2 separate regions of the Homo sapiens genome follow, and region 2 is linked to region 1. Evidence: fine-mapped expression QTL. A gene starts in region 1. The other region holds a variant in brackets. All regions are shown on one strand. Distances are between the middles of the regions.

Region 1 (10,392 bases):
GGCGGGGGGCGGGGGCGGTTGCTGCATTTCACGCGTCACTCCCTGGTCAAAGACCACCAGCCATTCTTTTCCTAGCCTGACAGGTCTGGTTTTCACAATAGCCTCTTCTGCCGGCTTCCAAAATCATGCTCAGCTTCCCCTCCCCAGAGCGGCATCCCTGTCCTTGACGCTTAACTGCGTACAGGCATACCCCAGGGAGAAATTCCACAGTATAATTAAAAACATGTTTTCTCAGCAGCTCAGACTCCCCCTACCCTGCCCTTTACACATGTCTGTAACTTTAATTAAGCCCAGCCAAGGCTCAGAAGGGCTGGTGGAAAATTCTTTTTTCCCAAACTGGTATTTCCTTCTTTTTTTCTTTTTCTTTTCTTTTCTTTTCCCCTTCCCTCCCTCCCTCCTTTCTTTCTTTCTCTTTCTTTCTTTCTTTCTTTCTTTCTTTCTTTCTTTCTTTCTTTCTTTCTTTCTTTCCTTTTCTTTCTTTCTTCTTCTTTCCTTTCTTTCCTTTCTCTCTCTCTTCCTCTCTCTCTCTCTCCCTCTCACCTCCCCTCCTCTCTTTACCATTCAATCAACATGGGGAGGAGGGGTTTCTGGCAAGGGCACAGTTGTGCTTGTTGTTTTAGAACTGAGCCTGTTAAATTTTCTTCCTTCCTGCTCTGTTTTCAATTTAACAGAAGGCAGCCAAGGCCTAAAATGAGCCCCATGATTCTTCCTTCTGCACTGAGAACCAGGACAGAATTCTTAGCCTGGACAAACATGACCCGGAGCCTGGGTACACTGGAGTTGGTGCCCAGCCTCTCTTTACTTGCCACATCCTCGGCTTGATGCTGAACCCAGGACAAAGGCCACAGCTGTCCCAGGTGCTCCAGGGTGTGGTGTCCAAAACATGATTAGCGCCCCACTTTCATGAGTCCTCAGGCCCCCCCACAGATATCCATCCTAACCCAGAAGCTGGGATGAAGGGATGACACCAAGAGACCCACCTAGTGATCTTCATAAACCCTCCCTGACACAGCGCCAGGTCCACAGCCAACACGGGCAGATGTATACTTGTCTTGTGCAGTGGAGAGAGCGCTCGTCATTGGGAATGCACGTTATCAGGATGAACTCCTTGGGAAGTCTTCTCTCACCCTCTCCAGCCCCGGTGCCTCCTCTGAGCTCACAGACCTCCTCCTCACCTCCCATCCGTGTTTCCTTCTACTCCACGGTCTCCACGTTGTGCTGCACAGTAATTATACGTGGGAGCCGCCCCTGCCTGGTTCTGAACTCCATGAAGGCAGTGGCTGTGTCTAGCTTACCTTGGTATAGGGCAAACACACGTCCCAGTTTTCCAGGTCCAGTGTTGGTTTACATTTATTGTCCCAGTGCAATTATTAATAGTGCTCCCTTTCACTTGCAAAACTGCCCTGATTGGATGATAAATTATATGGCCACTCTATCTTAGTGATATCAGTGACCAGACTATTGGATAGATCTCGATCCACGGGGGTCAGTGTGGTGTAACGGCCATGCCTGCCTGTCCTGGGTCACGCAGCATGGGTGTGAATCCCAGGTCCAACCCCACCAGTTACTAATCCTTCTCTGGAGCCTCAGTGACCTCATCAGTACCGGGGGGATCACAGAGAGGCCTCTCTCGTGGAACTGTTCGGAGAGTTCAGGGAGGTGATGCACTTAGTACAGTGCCAGACACTTAGTAACACTTGACAAATGTTAACAGAGGAAGAAAAAAAGAGGGAGGAAAGCAGAGATCTGAAGATTTTCATCTTATGCCCTTAGGGATTGGGAGCTGAGGAATGAGGAAATTTGGTATCTGATTTTACTCTTGCTCTGCTTACAGGAGACATGGAGGTTTGAGGGAAAACCTGGGAGCTGAATTATGGGCTGGGTGGTTGTACTTTTCTTAGAGGGACCATCTTCTAGAGGCAGAAGTTTCCAGAAGAACCGCAAGCTTAGGAAGGAGCCACAGATCCCTCTCAGAGCTACTGAATCTGTTGGGGGTGCCTCTGTCTTACCCAGACATCCTGGAAGCTCCTGGAATGTGGTAGCAGGTGGGGAGCCATCGGGAGGCGTGCCAGACAGAAATCTCAATTTCCAGGCCATCAGGATGGCATCCAGTGAACGCCAGCCCAGACCAGGCCCAGCCCTGGGAGGTGCCCTGGCCAAGGCCCTCAGCCCGAGTGGCTCCATCTCCCTGGGAGCACACTGTGGAGAAGGCAGAGTCCCTGAGCAGGAGTCGCCCACCCATGCCAGCGAAAGGCCAGATTGAGAGGGAGGGCACCAGAGCATTCTGAAAACAGGGTTATTCTCTGTCACAGCGACATGAGCGCCACAGGAATGGGCTCATTTTAGGCCAGCAGCTACAGTCCTGTTATCATGTGACCCCCTTTGAGGGTCACAAAGAGCACAGTGAGAATAAAATGAACTGAGAATTGTAATTTCTTATGGGAAAGAGAGAACAATGGCATATTGGATTTTCCTCCGCAGTCCACAGATGCCTCACATAGGCAGGGGCTGGGAGGTCTTGTTGCCATTGTATACCAATGAACCTAGCACGGTGCCTGGAGATTATTTTTTGATAGAAGGAAAGAATGAATACATGAAAAAATTTAATCATGAGGTTTTTTTTTCCAGTTTTATCAGGATTTTCATGCAAGAAGGGAAGCTCCTAGAAGAAAGGACTGAGTTTCTGATTACTCTTAATACTTGGCCCCTGGAGACAACAGATAACTTCAGCACCAGGCTTGACAGAGGAAAGTGACCTGAGGACAATGGTGCTTCCCAGACAAGTCAGGTTTAACTTGTCTCTTCCCCCTGCAGCCTCCCTGCGTCCTGGGCCAGCCACACACAGGTTTTGGAGCCATCCATGCGCATGGTTGAAGCGTGTCCCATGCTGCTCTCTTTTATGCTGGTTGTTAAGCTATTGTCCCTCGGCCCCACATGCACCAACCTGCCAGGGCTTTCTCCTCAGGGGTCCAGACCCGAGGTCAGGTTCAGAGATCCAGCAGCAGCCTCCATGCACGCCTTCCTCCCAAGTCCTAATGTCAGCTCCACAGACCTCTCATCTATGCTCCAAGTCTTAATAATTCCTGTCTCTTCCCTTGGTTCTCTCAGCCCTAGGGGTGGGAGCTGTGTCCTGCAATTGCTACCTCCATGATACCTTAGAGTTTCCTTTTACTCTCTCAGGTACCAGCTCTGTACTTAGCTAACACCTTTTCATATTAAACTCTAAGGAGACCCTAACTGAGACACTCATTCATAGGCCTTCACCTGTTCCAGTTGGCCCCATCACCTACATGAACTTATTCTGAACCGAGATTTGGAACAAATACTGTTCTCTTCTCGCCTAAAGCAGGTCTCCCTCCCTTTCCTCCTGATCTCTCCAGTGGCTTGCAGCTCCCAGGGTCCTAATCTCACCCCTACCCAGCCCCCATCCCTTATCCCCTCCTTCCTCTTTCAGCTCCTTTAGTCATCGGCATTTGCACAACTCTGCAAGGCTGTAGCAAAGTGCATTCTTTCTTTACAGTTCTATAGTCACTCCTTATCCTTTCCCAGAAAAAATTGCACAAAGCCAGTTGTCATTTACAAGTACAGTCTTGGTGTTCTCTGATCTCCGGCACCTTTTGCTCGCACTTCTCATGGACTATTCCACCTATGCTACTTTATGTTGCTCTTGGTCTCCAAACGTACTTTGGGTTTTCCCAGGCAGAACAGAAGCCAGTCCAGGGTGGAATCTGTGTCGTGCTTTTAGGGCTCCAGTCTAACCCAGGCTGGTGTCTGCTCATTGAAAGAGTTCAGGAAATGTGCGTGATGGTTAATAACGTATTGCATCTCACAGAATCTAGGACGCAGTCAATTGTAAGACACACTGTTACTTTTCTGCACCACTAAGAAAGAAAAATAATGTGTCCAGTTAAACTGTGACTTGATCGTGAGCTGCATCCCAATTTCAGAAATGCTAACATGTGAAAAAACAATGTGCCTCAGAGAATCAATGAAATAAGGCCTCACTAAGCTGGGAAGCTGTTCGAGGGGGTTCTTGCTTGCCTTTGGCCTGCTCTTCAGGGCTTAAAGTTCTTCCCACTGCTCAGCGTGGATGCCCTAGAGAGCGGTAGACTGGACAGGCAGGTGTAAAACGGGGGGTGGGGGAGGGGCGGGCAGGCAATGGATTGACAGGCACGGTAGGCAAAAGATTTTCATGTGGCTGAGGACAGAGAAACACATCTTCCTGGGAAGGGCACTGTCAGAGGGGCCCACAGAAAGGCCGTCCAGCTAAACACTGCTTCAGTGCTAATCGGCGACAAGCCCACTGACTGCTCACAACCCCCCACCCTGCCCCACCACCCTACCCCACCACCCCACCCCACACTTCCAACCTGTTTATTTGCTCCACACCTCATTTTTAAACCACAGACAGTAACTGTTACCTTTTGCCTTTTCCGCAGGGTCCAGTTCTTCCAGAGCAAAAGCTGTATCTGTCTCACGAAGCCCATGCTAATGACCACACGAAGACCAGATTGGTCAGAGCTGAGGCCCCTCAGACAGCAAAGGACATAAACGCCGTTAAGAGCGCCTCTGGCTCCGGACGCTGTGTCCTTCTCCTGGTGATTAAAGGCTACTTTTCCCCTTCAAAGCATAATCCCTTTTAATTACACATAAGCCCTTAGTTGGGGAGAGGAGGCCGACACTGTGTTGGCTCCCTTTTATGGAGAGAAAGAGAACCCTAAAGACACAAGTGGCTGGGCACCAGGGAAATTGAGGTGGGGGATGCAATGGGAAACCAAGACCCTCAGGCACTCTCCTCCATGAGAGGGGTTCCTGAGGGGGATGTCTTTAGGTATCTTTGACCTTAAGTTTGGAACAAAATCTCTTTGCATAAATATAGGCTGGGCATTTGTCCTCGGCAAGAGCCTGCCATGAGCCGGCAGTCAGGGTTTGACTGGCCCTTTAAGTCCAATCGACTCACTCGGCAGATCTGAAGTGATCCCTCCCTCTTTTAGTCTTTTATCTTGCTCCGTAATGACTGAAGTCATTATGGTCAGCTAGTTGGGTTATCTCTGAGCTTAGCAGAGGGTAATGATGTTTATCTCTTGTGCTGAAATTGATCGACTAGTAGTGGCTGCTTGGTGCTGTGATGGAAAAGGCACTGGAACACTCCAGGCCCAGCAGGACAGAGCCGTGACTGACTTGCAATGTCTGACTGGGGTGCGGGTATGAGGAGAGGCAGCAGGTGGGCCCATTACTGTCATTCCAGCCCTGCAATGGGGTGGTGCTGGGTTGACTCATCACCAGGTGGGGGATCTGTGATCCCAAGGGACACCCCAAACAGAAGCCTCCCTGGCACTTCGCAGTGGAACTTTTTGTCTCTGCCTCCTCAAATCTCAGAATGTGTTCTCTTTGAAAGACTCTAGACCCTTGAGACCTGGATGGGGCGGAGGGAGAACCACAGAGAGGAATGGATGCTGACTTCATAGAGTTTGCGGTCTGGTTGTAAACACGGGACTTGAACTCGAATAACTCAAGGAGTGTGATGAGGGCCCATAGGCTGTGCATGGTGGAGCTTCCAAGAAGAGAGAGATAGTTTCTGCTTATGATGGCAAAAAGGCTCCTTGGAGGTGATGGCATTTAAGACAAGCTTGCAGAATTACAAAATAATATTTTATAGTAAGTTTATTATTTATAAACTGCTTTTGCATATGTTATTTCATTTTAGCCTCACTACAATTTTGTGAGGTCCATATTTGCTGTTTTACAGATGAGGAACGTGAAGCTTAGTGAGATTAAGTACTTTGCTCACGGTCCCACATGGCAACGGTGGGTACTTGAACAAGTGAGTCATTTAAACTCTGCAAAGACAGGGAGGAATAGCTTATCTTGCCCAGGAAAACCACAAGTGAAACATGGCTGGAGTGAAGGCTATGAGGCTATGAATGGAGGATGCTGGAAAAGGAGACAGGAACCAGACTGAAAAATTGATGATGATGATGATGATGATGATGATGATGATGATGATGACTGATTCAACTGAGATTTACTGAGCACCTGTGAAGTGACTGGAGTGGCCCACAAGTGCAGGCTACCCCCAAGCAAGCTCTGGCAGAATCATTAAGACCTTGTTACATGCTAAAGGATATGGGTTTTATCATGCTGAAGATGATGAAAGATTTTAATCCAGTGGCTGCCAAGAGTAGTCAGTTCACCTCGGCAGCAATGTGGGGGTGGTTTGGGGGGAGCCAGAGAGCCTGAACCATGCAGTGACAGCCATGATGGAGAGAAGGGGAGGGACTGGAGGGATAGGAAGGAATGAGACACAGCAGTGCCTGATGAGTTACTGGAAGAGGGTGGTGAGGAAGAGGCAGAAGTCAGCTAGATGGAGTTTGGGGCTTGACTGGCTGGCTAGTGAGACGGTGGTGCTCATAACTGAGGAGGGAATGCCAGAGGAAGGCCAGTGGGGAGTAGGAGGCAGTTGGGGGGAACAGGGGTTTGCATTTGATATACTGAAGCTGAAGTTCTATGACATCTGACCACACGTATTCAGCAGGCAGTTGAATACTTGGGTCTGGAGTCAAGAATAAGCTTGTGAGATGGAGACATAGATTTGTGAGTGGTCAACATATAGGTGGAAGATTAAGTCCCGGGAGTGATTAAACAGGTGACCCAGGAAAGAGAAGCTTGGAGAGTATATGAGGTTGCTGAAGGGGAGCCACAGCTGGTGAAGGAATATGCCTCCTTCCAATTCCCAAAGACATCAGCTATATAAGTAATGTTCTGTCATAGTTTCAAAATGGTCCATTCTTCCTTGAGCTAGAAAGTTAAACTATGAGCACTTTGTTAATATTCAATTGATGATGCTCTAATAGTATTATTCGCATCTAACCAGTTTCCTTGCCTGAACAAATCTGTTTGTTGAGATTGACACACACATGAAATAAAATGTATCATTTGAACCTTATTTTAAGTGTACAGTTGAGTAGTGTTGATACATTCATATTGTGCAGCCATCAGCACCATCCATCTTCAGAACTTTTTCATTTTGCAAAACTGAAACTCTGTATCCATTAAACACTAACTCCCCAGAGTTCCCTCCCCCTAGCCCCTGCCAACCACTCTATTTTCTGTCTCAATGAACTTGACTACTCTTGGTACCCCATCTAAGTGGAATCATAGAAAAGCATAATCTTTAAAGTTCATCTATGTTGTAGCAAGCCATCTTAATCTGTTTGAGCTGCTATAACAAAATACCATAAACTGGGTGGTTTATAAACAACAGGAACTTATTTCTCACAGCTTTGCAGGCTGGGAAGTCCAAGATCAAGGTGCCAATAGATTTGGTGTCTGGTGAGGGCCTATTTCCTGACATGTAGATGGTAACTTCTTGGTGTGACCTCATCCAGTGGAAGGGAAAAGGGGTCTCTCTTGGGCTTCTTTTTATGAGGGCACTAGTCCCATTCACGAGGGTTGTACCCTCATGACCTAATCACCTCCACAAAGCCTCACCTCCTAATACCATCACCTTGGGGGTTAGGATTTCAATTTATGAATTTTAGAGGAACACATAATTTAGACCATAGCAGATGTGTCAGAATTTCTTTTTTTGTTTTTTTTGTTTTTTTTTTTTTTGAGATGCAGTTTCACTCTTGTTGCCCAGGCTGGAGTGTGATGGTGCAATCTCAGCTCATTGCAACCTCTGCTTCCTGTTCAAGCGATTCTCCTGCCTCAGCCTACTGAGTACCTGGGATTACAGGCAGGCGCCACCATGCTTGGCTAATTTTTTTTTTTGTATTTTAAGTAGATATGAGGTTTCTCCATGTTGGTCAGGCTGGTCTCAAACTCCCAACCTCAGGTGATCTGCCTGCCTTGGCCTCCCAAAGTGCTGGTATTACAGGTGTGAGCCACCGTGCCCGGCCAGAATTTCTTTCCTTTTTAAGGTCAATTAATATCCTATTGTCAGTATAGACCTCATTTTGTTTATCCATTCGTCCATCCAGGGTCATTCGGGTTGTTTCCACCTTTTGGCTATTGTGAGTAATGCTGCTATGAACATAGGTGTACAAATATTTGAGATTCTGCTTTCAATTCTTTGGGGTATATACCTAGGAGTGAAACTGCTGAATCAAATGGTATAACTGTTTATTTTTTGAAGAACTACCATACTATTTCCCTTAGCAGCTGCACCATTGTACTTTCCAATCAGCAGTGCACAATGGTTCCAGCTTTTCCACATCCTGGCCAACACTTGTTATGCTCTGTTTTTCTTCTTATCACCACCATCCTAAAGGGTGTGAGATGGTATTTCACTGTGGTTTTGATTTGCATGTCCCTAATGATTAATGATGTTAAGGACATTTAACTCTTTTTTACTCTTTCAATATTATAGATATTTGGTAGGATTTTTCTCCCAAGGTAACTCCAGTTGTTTAAAAATTATGTCAAACTAAAAGCTGTGTTTAGTTTTTTCATATATTTCTGAGGATATACCTAGTGAGTCAAAAATGATACTGATAACTGTACATTTCATTCTCATAGTTATCACCATTAATACACATTGATCAGGGTGAATATGAAATTGATGTGGTCCTGGCAGTAGTTTTGAGCTACGACCCTGCACATAGATTAAGAGTTGTGGTGTTAAGCGATAGACCATATCAATTCACATTTACATTCAGAATTATAAACAAGTCAAGGAAAATGGTGAAGTTTTAAAGATCTTCTCACTTCTATTCCTGAGGGTTGAACTAGGAAGAGGCATTCTGCTACTTACATCAGTTATTCTGCAAACAAAAATTCAGTAGTGGAGAGAAGTAATTTATAACTTTTTACAGTTTCTATTTGGAAGAAAAGCTATGGAAAAATATATAGACTAAATTACTTTGAAATTACTGTAATTTTGGAGTGGAGATAAATTTGATAATGAAACCAATACCAAAAGATCACCATCAATTCACTTGCAACAAGCTGAAGAAAATAGAATGTCCCCAAATATATCATTAGACATATGTTTATTTCAAACAGTGATTACAGGTGGAATGAGAAGACATTATGAATCTATGTCACAAGCATAAAGGCAGTTTTGGGACATCATAATGTAAGATGAAAAATATCTGATTTTTAAATTTGATTTTATTTCTACCAAACTCAAAACTAAATCATTGTACAATTAAAACTTGAAACTCCAGTCATCATGAATAACATGTTTCCTCAGCTTACGCAATAATATTTCATGAGATGATAGTGCAAAAAATAAATAAATAAGGCTCAGTTTATGAAAGTTACACATAGAAAAAACTCCAAGGCTGAGTGGAAGCTGCCAGCAGGTTGACTGCCTGGCTCACAAAGATTTGCTCTTTTCTAGGAGTGACTCCAACACCAAGGGAAGAGTCTGCAGTAGGCTTGTTAATGCCAAAGTGGACTGGTCATGTGCAGTCACATGATCTTAGCTGGGCCAGTCAGGGCCTATTCACAGAAATTTGGGGCATGGATCTGTGAGAAGCATGGGTTAATCATTACAGAAGTACAGAAGTGTTGAGAAATTAGAGGCCATGCTGGGTCACTAGGTTCAGTTTGTGTACGTAGGGGCCTAAGCAAAGACTGGGGACTGGATTTCACTTGTTTTTGCTAAACAAGCCCGGGACCCTGGTATAGGGCTGCATCCTATCAAAGGAGGTACCTTTTTCCTTTCACAAAGGCGTCTTCTGCTCACCAAACTATACAACCACGAGGCTGCATCCACCCAGAGGAGCACCTTTTCTAATTTGCATAAAAATGCCATATAGGCTAGCAGAGGACCTGAGGCTGTGTTCCCCACCACTAGGAGAAATCTGATCTGCAGTAACAGAGAATGAAGGGAATGCACAGAGAGGCCGAGGTAGAGAGCATAGGTCCCAGTTGTAGCTGAGTCCCTGGTTCCAGCTGTCCCTGGGAGACAGCTGTTCCCTCCTCTTCAGGCAGATTAGCAGTAAGACACTCCAATCCTTTCAATAAAACCTCCTTTTGCCTAAATTAGTTCAAATTTGGCTTCCATAGTATATGAATAAAATTCCTGGGTAGGTCCATGATTGCAATAATAATATAAGTATTATAAATACTAACATAATCCAATGGAGTTGCAGCAGAATTTAAAGAAGAGAGGTACTGTCATGAGTATCTTCAAGAAAGTAAAAGAAATCCAAAATACCCAATATCAGCAATTCCTGCATCTCTTAAGAAAAGGCTTACAAGTTTTCAAAACTTGCTAAGCAGTGTCAAGCCAAGTAGGAAGATGTGTGGCAAGTTCAAAATACATCAACCATTGCACATTACTAGCTGGAACGGAAGTGCTTTCATAGGTTACAAAAACATTAAAATGATATCATCTGATTCTCCAAATCCTTTCATGGCCAATGAATCAAGTGAAATATT
Region 2 (9,146 bases), 110 kb before region 1:
TGCTGTCCACTTAGGGAGCTCTCCCTGCAGACTCACTTTGAAACAACAGGAGCCCTCAAGGCATTTGTTAACACCAGGCCCTGAGCCATCTCCAGCTCTGCTTTTCAGCCCCTCACAGGGCAACTACCATTGTCTAGGGAGAGGAGGGTTGGAGACTCTCTCTGGGGTCTGTGTTAAGCCAGGGACTTGTTTTCAAGTGGTCGGACTTGGCATGTTGGGCAGAGCCTCCCCTGAGAAAATAGAAGGGACATCGAGGCGTACGAGGCCAGCATAGCTCCTGGCTGGGCCACTGCTGTCCATTCCATCTGGCTCCTCCCAGTCCCACAACCTCCTCCCTCTCCAGCCTCCACACCTGCGCCCACATTACCTCATCCTTCCCTGCCTACCCTTTCTCCCCACTCTTTCTGGAATCACTGTGCTCTTTGGCCTCTAGGCCTGGGCATGTGCAGGCTGTTACCTATTGCTCCAAGCAGGAAAGAATGCTCTTTTCCCTTCTGCTTTCTTAAAGATTCCTGTTCTTCTTTAGACAGCTGGCTCAGAGAGTGCCTTCCCTTACAAGCCTTCCAAGATTCCCATGAGAAAGTATCCATTCCTCTCTCCCAGCACTTATCACATTCCCATGATTAATTTTTTAAAAATCTGCCTACTTTCTCTACTAGTCAGTGGGCCCCTGGAGGGTGGGCACTGAGTCCTAATTATTTTTTTGTCCTTCCTAAATACCTGCACAATGATTAGCTCAGAGTAGGCACTTCATTATTTATTAAATGGGCTAATAGAAATCTACAGGCTGAAATTGAACTTCCTCCACCACGGCTCCCCCAGCCCCTGCAGCCTGGCTCTTCCCGCTGCCTCTGGCCTGCAGCATGTTATCTGCCTCGCTCCTCTGCTGCTCTGTCACACGCTGTATTATGGAGGATCATACACTGTGGCTTATATCGTTGCAAACTTCGTGGGCAGGTCCTTTTCCGACTGGAACGGGAGCCTCTGGAGGGCAGGACGAGTGGGCCACGCTTGTTTATATCAGCACACACCCGGCACGTGGTGTTCAGCTGGTAAAGACCTCCTGATCTCACACGGGCCGGCAGCTGCTGGGAGCTGGGGAGCTTCCTGTGGGATACTGGGGGTTTCCATAGCAGCTGTGTATCGGATAATTTACATGAAAATACCAGGTTTTTGAAGGCGGGTGCTTAGCAAATGTTGGCTAAATGGGTGCAGCCTCAGAGGGGAAAATGTTCTGAGTTGCTTTAAGCTGGCTATTTAATTATTCTGAAGGAAAACTGTCTTAAGACTTAGTGGGCTGTGAGCCTGTGGCAAACACAGCTCTGCAAAGCAGCACTTTCAGTCACCTGGGTGCTCTGGCCATCTGCTGGGGCTGTGTTCTTATCCCCCCGCCTTTCCAGAGTCTGACTCTGACATGCTGAATTTCTTATCATTCATGGGACAGATGAGGCTTCGTTACTTGCCTAGCAGCCACGAAACCCTAACAAGATCTGGAAAGAGTCAGTCTCAGGGGTCCACGGGTCTGGGCGGTTCATGGTGGGGCCTCCGCACAGATTTGTCCTGTGTTCCCCAGTGGGGCCCAGAGGCAGGTGGAGGTGGGTGTGGCAGGGCAGCAGTGCAGATGTGCTGGCCGGTCCCACCCTCTGAACTGGGAAGAGCTAATGAGGAGAGGAAAGGTTGAGGCGCCTGGGGACACAGGCACGTGGTGAGGCAAATGTTCCAAGGACAGCCACAGCCAGGACTCAGACACAGCGGTGGGGACTGGGAGTGTGGAGTGTGGAGTAAAGACAGCCCTGCAGCGACTGCCTTCTTTTTTTCCCCCTCTTTTTATGATTCAGTTTGGCCATCTGTCTCTGGACAGGGGGAGGTCAGGTGGAAGGGACAACTGGGCTTGGCAGCTCATAAAAGTGAGGCATTCAGCATGGAGAACACCCAGTCTCTTCATCAAGATTAACTTGCCCAAGGAATAGTATATGTCAGAGTGTTACAATTTCCATAAGAAAGCGGGAGAAAGACCGTATAGGGATCTGCTGATGTGTCTCCAGAGCACACAGGAAACTCAAGTAAGAGTTTGCCTCTGGAGAAGAGAACTGCATGAGTGGGAAACAGGGGTAGGAAGGAGATTTTTTCATTGTATGCCTTTTTGTTCCTTTTAGATTTTGAAATTACCCAAATGTATTGATGTGTGTGTGTGTAAAACCCAACACCCAAAGTCCCTGAGAAAACCTTTCTGAAAGAGTAAGCAAAGCTTAAAGTTTATTGCAAGAATCAAGTTTTGCTTGCAGAATAAACACAGAAAACCATTTCATTCAGAGCACAGAAATGAAAAAGGTGCTTATAGGAAGGAAAGAAGGAAGAAAGAAGGAAGGATGGAGGGAGGGATGGAGGGAGGATGAAAGGAAAAAGGGAGAGAGGGCAGAAGGAAAGAGGAAGGGAAGGAGGGACGAAGGAAGGAAGGAAGCAATGAAAAAGGAAGGAAGGAGGGACGGGGGAAGGAGGGAGGAGGGAGGAGAAGAAGGAAAGAGGAAGGAAGGATGGGAGGAAGGAAGGAAGGAAAGGAGGCAGGGTCGGGGGTAGGGAGGAAGAAAGTGGCACTCATCCGCATACAGCTGCTACATGTACGATGCTTGCCCCTGGCTCTGCTCGACCAACACATACTCTACTATCCTACTAATCAAACAAAAAAGCCAAGAAAGTTATGCTCACCCGGTTATTCTCAAATAATTCCAAGATGAAGGTAATAGCACTGCTGTTGATGCCGATGAACAGATTAGCACAAGATAAAGCCACATAGGCTGTGCTGGGGACATCAAACAGGAAGGATGCTGGGTACATCATGGGAATGACCGCCCATCTGTGTGAAATGAGACAACTCAGAGTGATGGAGTTCCACATTCCATTCCACCTACAATACGTCTGGATATAATGCACTCCCCTTACACCTGAGGTGATGTGTGTGAACTGGCCAGAGTCCCAGGGGACCAGAGAGATACTCCATTTGTTGGTCTCTGTGCCTCAACTTTAAATGGAGATAATGATGCCTGCCTTGACCACTTCATGGGGTTTTGTGAGGAGCAAATGGGCTGCTAGCTGTGTATATACTCTGTAAACTACAAAGCCCTGTACAATTCATAGGAGGGTTCTCCAGCCTGCAACACCTCCCACTCTAGCCTGGGTCAGCAAAGCCCAGCTGAGGTCATCTCAGATGAGCCCAGTGAGCTCATCTTCACAGCTTATAGTCAGGTTGGTTCCCAAATTCTCTATTTCCAAGAGAAAGATGTGGAGAACAATGCTTTGGCAAGGCTCTACTGGCCCACAGAGGAAGGACCAGGATCACTATTTTCTTTTACAGATGAGGAAACTGAGGCCGAGATGGATGAATTACTCATTCAAATTTACACACGTGGGAAAGAAAGTTGCATGCTGGGCCCTGTAACTCTGCTGATGTAACCCCTGTGTCATCCTCTGTCCCTGACTCAGGAGGAGCTTTTTGGCCGGAGTCTTCTACTGTGGGCGGTAACTCTTGGCCAGTTCACATGGGGACACTGAGGTGGACAGATTGGCCACAGATGAGTGAGAGTCAGAGCTGGGTGAGGGGTTGGGGAATGGCTGCCCCCAGGCTTTGGTCAAGGCCTCAGTTTGAGTAGGAGATTCAGATCATGTGGGACTTCTCTCATTGTCACTGACAGGACCAGGCCTCAGAGATACCTCTGTCAGTGGAGTCAGAATCAGAAGCCAGACAGATCCCTGGTTATCAGCTTCAGACCCTACCTGGGGCCGGAAGCTAAACTTGTGGGTGCTACCACCACAGGACAGCCCAGGTTTTCTGTCAGGAGATGATCCCCCACCCCCACCACCAGGCTTCTCTTCAGAGGCATTAGCTAATGGCCCAAACGGCTTACCCATACAGCAGGAGCAGTGCCACAAGGGCAGGAAGGTTTTCTGGAGAAGTGTAGGCTTTCTTCTGAAACCCGATGAAGATGCCCACCACCAGCCCAGCACTCACGGAATAATTCATCTCGGAAAGAGAAGAGGAGAGCAAGTCACTTAACCTCTCAGACCTGCTGCCAGCTCTGCAAAATGAGGGGTGGGGCCAGGCTCCTCCAGCTCGTAGGGTCTGGGATTCTGATTCGACTTGCTTTTTAAACAGTTCTTGGTTGGCAAACATATGTTAAGCTGTCACTAGTCCTCCTACCCCACCCCATGCCCTACCTCCCTGCCAAGGGAACCTTTAGTTTGTATCTTTTGAAAGGATCAATTACAAAATTCTGCCTGGTCTCTCACTCTTTCTATTTGGTCATAAAGTTTTGTTGATTCTTCTTTCTAAGCATGTCTTCAGAATTCAGAAAAACTTAAAGCCTAGTTCTTGGCTTCACAAAGCTCAAATAAATAATGATACCCTTTTTAAACAATTTAGTCCTACAGCCACTATACTGGGCACAGAAAGGGGACGGCAACAGTGGGGTTAGGGGAGGAGCCATGGTGATCAGGAGCAGGGCAAGAACCAGAGA[C/T]GGGCTTCCTCAGGGGGCAACCTGCCGTGGGGTGTGGAGGCCTCAACGGGATGAGAAAGATATCCTTACAGGAGGCTGATCTGGTGCAGGGTATCAGAGCCAGAGCAGAACGAGGAGGACCTGCATGCAGCAGAGGCAGCTGGAGCAGGGAGAGGACGGCATCCACATGGGGAGGGGATGGTGGCAGAGTTGGGCACTGTTCAGGTGTATAGGTCCGGTAGATAAATGAGTTGGGAGTGAGAGAAGCCAGCGTCTCACTGTTGGAGAAGGGAGTTACAGATGTGGAAAGAAAAAAAACTAGAATGAGCCCTGTGGAGTTGGTTTTGGAGAGCTCATAGTGTTCACTGTATAGGTAGATAGAGAACTATAGATAGAGGTGTGTGCATACCTGTGTGTGTACATCCATATCTTCCCTAGTTCTATCACTGAGAAGGCCTGGGACCAATGGTGCTCCAGAGGCAATGAACATATCTAGCACTCAGACCTTGGCTTCTGAGGGCCACTTCCCACTGGCAGGAACCAGGGCTTCTTGGGGAGAGGGTAGGAATGGGGATAATGGAAGGATGAGCCTGGAATATCTTGCTGTGCCATTGAGCATGGAGGAGGTCCAGGGGCATGAGGACCCAAGTCAAGACGATACAGAAGCCAGCTTCAACGGCCCCCCACTGACCACAGTGGGGATAATGTGAATATCAAAATAAATAATGATAGTCTTGGATCATAGTCCATTGATTAACACATGAACCATGACTGCATACAGAGATAAATAAATGGATGAATAAATGGAAAATTGTATAATGAATAGGATATTTATATATCTTTGAAGTGCCTCTACCTGAAATTTGTATTTATTATAAAGGGGAAAAGAGTAATTTTACAGTGAAGAAGCTCAGCAGACACCTTCTTAAGTGACCGAATTGAACATCATCAGTAACAGAGCAAATTGAAATCAGAAGCCACCTGATAGGATGCAGTGAGAACACAGCATCTGTTTGCTGATACTGCTGCCAAGATGCACACCCTCAACCTGGGCAAGAGGAAACCTCAGACAAGCTCAGACCAAGGGACATTCTGCAAAATAACCAGCCTGCAGTCCTCAAAGTGTCAAGACCATGAGTGTTAACAAAAGACTGTGGAACTCTTCCAGGCTGAACGAGACTAAAGAAACAGCACAATCAAATGTCATGCATGATTCTGAGCTAGATCCTTTTTTCTGAAAGACATCACTGGGGCAATGGGCGAAAGAGGAGTGGGGTGTGAGGATTAGGTGGTGATGACACATCAGTGCTGGTTTCCTCATGTTGACAGTTTGTGTTGTGGTTGTATGGGGTGTATCCTCGTTTGTAGGAAGTATACATCGGACGTGCTGAGGGGTGTGAGAGAGAGAGACAGGAAGAGAGAAATAAATGAGAAGGGGCATCTTGCTGAGAAGTTACTTTCAAATGACTAAGAAAAAAAGGTTTCAACTGTACTTGTGACTTTTCCATAAGTCTGTAACTGTTGCAAAATTTTAAAGTAAAGAAAAATAGATGACACATATAAGAATTTAAAACATCATATATGTGCTAAGTGAATTACATAAGCAATAATTGTTTGTTCCTTCATTCAACTTTTTTTTTGCCACTGGCTAATGGTGGTCCTAAGTTCCAAAATGATGGATCGCGGAGGTGAGATTCCAGGCCAGCTTTAAAATTCTGGAGCATCAGAAAGCCTGCTAACATGATGCCTACCATCTTCTACCCCTTCATTGGACTGCCAGCTAGTATCACCTCCCACCTCAGATGTCCACTCTATCCTAGCTACATCTCTCTCCATAGGCTCAGAGATCCCTGTAAGCGCACACGCGCGTGCGTGCACACATACACACACACAGAAACACGTGGGCCAGCCCCAAGTGTGTAAATTCTATTTCTTATCTTTTAAAAAAAGTAAAATTAAAAGCCTCCGCACTTTTCTAAGTAACTTTTCGGTACCGGTGGGCCTAGCTCCTTTTATATTAGCATCACAGGGCCAATGTGGTACCTGCAGTTGATGCTCTTATCCAAAGAAAGGCTTTCAGGTTCTGACCTCCTCCCCGTGCATTTATGAGTGTTTCCTCGTGTAGACAGAAGAGAGAGGAAATAATTTAGTTGCTACTGATAATCTCTGGTTTTGTATTGTTAAGTGATAGCTGCTTACTAAGCTGAGTAAGATAGAAATCATATCTTCAGGAATTCCAATATTCACCATCATTTTAAAAAACCATGGATGAGAAGGTCATTTGTGTTGGTCTCCATCAGTTGGTATATCTTATCATCACATGAAATGGAGGCTCATGTTGGTCTTAAAATGTTGAGATTTTACTACTCAAGACACCTAGAATAAATTGGGGTTGATGTCATAATGATCCCTGTTACATTATAACTAGGCCTTTACTACCAATTCCTTTGACCCTGCAGCCTGTAATAGGGTACGCTATCCTGACCCCTCCCTACCCCCACCAACCTTGGTTGTCAGGAAGGTGGTAGTGTGCTATTGATTTAATAAATATTTTTTCTTCATTTTTCCCTGTAGCGGTGGTTAATCTAATAAGTGAAGGTCTTATTATTTTGGCCACTGGCTGGGGTTGCCAGATTTGGCAAATAAAAATCTAGGATGCCTAGTGAAATTTGAGTTTCAGATAAACAACCAGGTTTTTTTTTTTTTTTTTTTTTTTTTTAGTGTAGATATGTCCTGTGCAATATTTGAAGTAGCATATGCTTATACTAAAAATTATTCATCATCTGAAATTAAATTTAACTGGGTGTCCTGTATTTATCTGGTGACCCTACCACAGGGAAAGTTTTACCTTTACCCTTTTGAAGGTGGGGCAGGATTTGAGAAGGGGACTTGGGGTGAAAGACCCCTTCATATTACCTTCTCAGCGCCAGACTGATGCCAGGAAGGCCAGACTCATGCCTGCGGTGCAGTGATTATTTGATGGGTCAGAAGACCCCTCAGTGCAGGACATAGAGAGCCCCCGTTCACCAGTTGTTAAGCTGCACCCCACAGCCTTTCCTAGCTTCGGGCTCCTAGTTCTGTGCCTTTCTGAGAAGATGTCAAGGGACAGCAGATACACAAGGCCCTTGGCCCAGTGCCTTTCAGCAGCCCTGGCACCGTGAGAACCCCTCCCCTCTTGGTCTGGTCCTTCAGAGCACACACAAGCTCCACCTTGGGCCCACGGAGGGGAGGGAGGCGCTGTAAACTGACACTTACGATGTCCCAGAGGAAGTTGGTCACCCAGTAGGTGGTGGGGCTCACTCCACTGATAAACTGGAGGTGCTTGGATTTGTTCACCCGCTCCTGGATCAAATAAAGGACAAAGCTGGCTGGGACGAAGGACATGGAGAAAATCACGCAGATGGCAACCACAGCATCCACTGAAGTGGTCAGCCTGCAGCAGGGCCAGAGACACAGGGAGAGGGCGATGAAGAGGGAAGAGCAGAAGGAGGAGAAGATACAAAGTCAGGCTTTGGGAAGGCCTTACACCCGCCCAGGTGTGGCCTCCAGGTTCCTCTTCTCTACCTTGAAGCTGTCACTCCACTAAACTGTCTTAATCCATATGGACCAAGGTTAAATGGGTATTTGCGGGTTGCCTTTCTATTTCATGTGAATATTTCTAGACAACCTTTCTTTTTATTATATTCTCTAATTATTTTTATGGTGTATAGAAATAGATGTTTATATTAATCTTATGTACTGCAATGCTCTCATTAGCTCTAATAATCTGTCTATAGAGTCTCTTGAATTTTCTATGTTGACAGACATACGGTCTGTGAGATTTATCTTTTGTTAATAATCATCTTGTTAAATCACATTTTCAAGAAGTACATCGTAACACAAGGAAATGTTCATGATGTAAATTTAAGTGAAAAGAGGGCAGGCAAGTTGTACAGGGACTTGGCTCTATTTATTCTTTCCTCGGACAAATAGAAGGCATCTGGCTGAGGGGTAAGTTGGGGCTAAAGCCAGCCTGAACTTTATGTACAAGCCATAACCCCTGGCATGGGACAGTGTCCACCTGCAGAAAAGAGCATTTTTACTAATTTCCACAAAGGTATCCTATGTGGTAGTCACTACCTTGATAAAACTACAGATCATATCATCCATACACGTAGTAAGCTTAGAACAAATGACTGGAAGGAGACACACGAAAGTGTGGCTGAGTGAGAATTAACAGAGGACAGTCTAGGGCCCTAGGGTGTCCAGAGGAAGACACCAAGGAGCCAAGGCCCAGGTTTTAGTGGATGACCCTGGGCATGTTCACTGGCACTCAGCGTGTGCTAGGATAGTAAAATCAGGACCCCACAACGTTGCTGAAGTTTGCACTAACAAAGGTGCTCCTACCAACCCCTCCTCCATGTAGGCCTCAAATAGAGTGAACATACTACAAAACGCACAAGGCCACTGTCTCCACTGGCTGAAACTGTGCAAGAAGAGCCTCAGCTTGAGGGTAGCAAAGCTCTGTCGACATCTCCAAAGTATGCTCTTCTGAGGAAATTCCTGGAATCTAAGATAATTACTCCGAGGGAGCTGAAAGGTTTACTGAACTTTGCCAGTTCCTGGCAGCTGCTTTGCACATAGCAAAGATAATAATTGTATAAGCTCCAGGAGCAA

Alleles and levels. Positions count from the first base shown, and alleles are read on the strand shown. Sizes are in standard deviations (SD) of each study's normalised expression.
For the expression in testis of the gene that starts at base 4,590 in region 1, allele T in region 2 goes with a lower level than allele C (moderate effect, 0.43 SD a copy in GTEx).

The links. PIP is the estimated chance that this variant, and not a neighbour inherited with it, causes the effect.
Region 2: its variant is fine-mapped to the expression of ABCA4 in testis (GTEx, PIP above 0.99).

What each region holds. Positions count from the first base shown.
Region 1 is chr1:94,116,559-94,126,950 of GRCh38, forward strand. ABCA4 (ATP binding cassette subfamily A member 4) reads right to left here and starts at 4,590. Exons shown (of 50, transcript NM_000350.3): 1 at 4,422-4,590. The coding sequence starts at 4,487.
Region 2 is chr1:94,011,837-94,020,982 of GRCh38, forward strand. It overlaps ABCA4 (ATP binding cassette subfamily A member 4), which reads right to left. Exons shown (of 50, transcript NM_000350.3): 36 at 7,746-7,923; 37 at 3,903-4,018; 38 at 2,707-2,854. Among named protein-coding and RNA genes, the nearest start is that of ABCA4, 100 kb to the right of the region's middle. RefSeq lists an enhancer at 8,910-9,146. The variant C/T (reference allele first, on the strand shown) is at 4,512.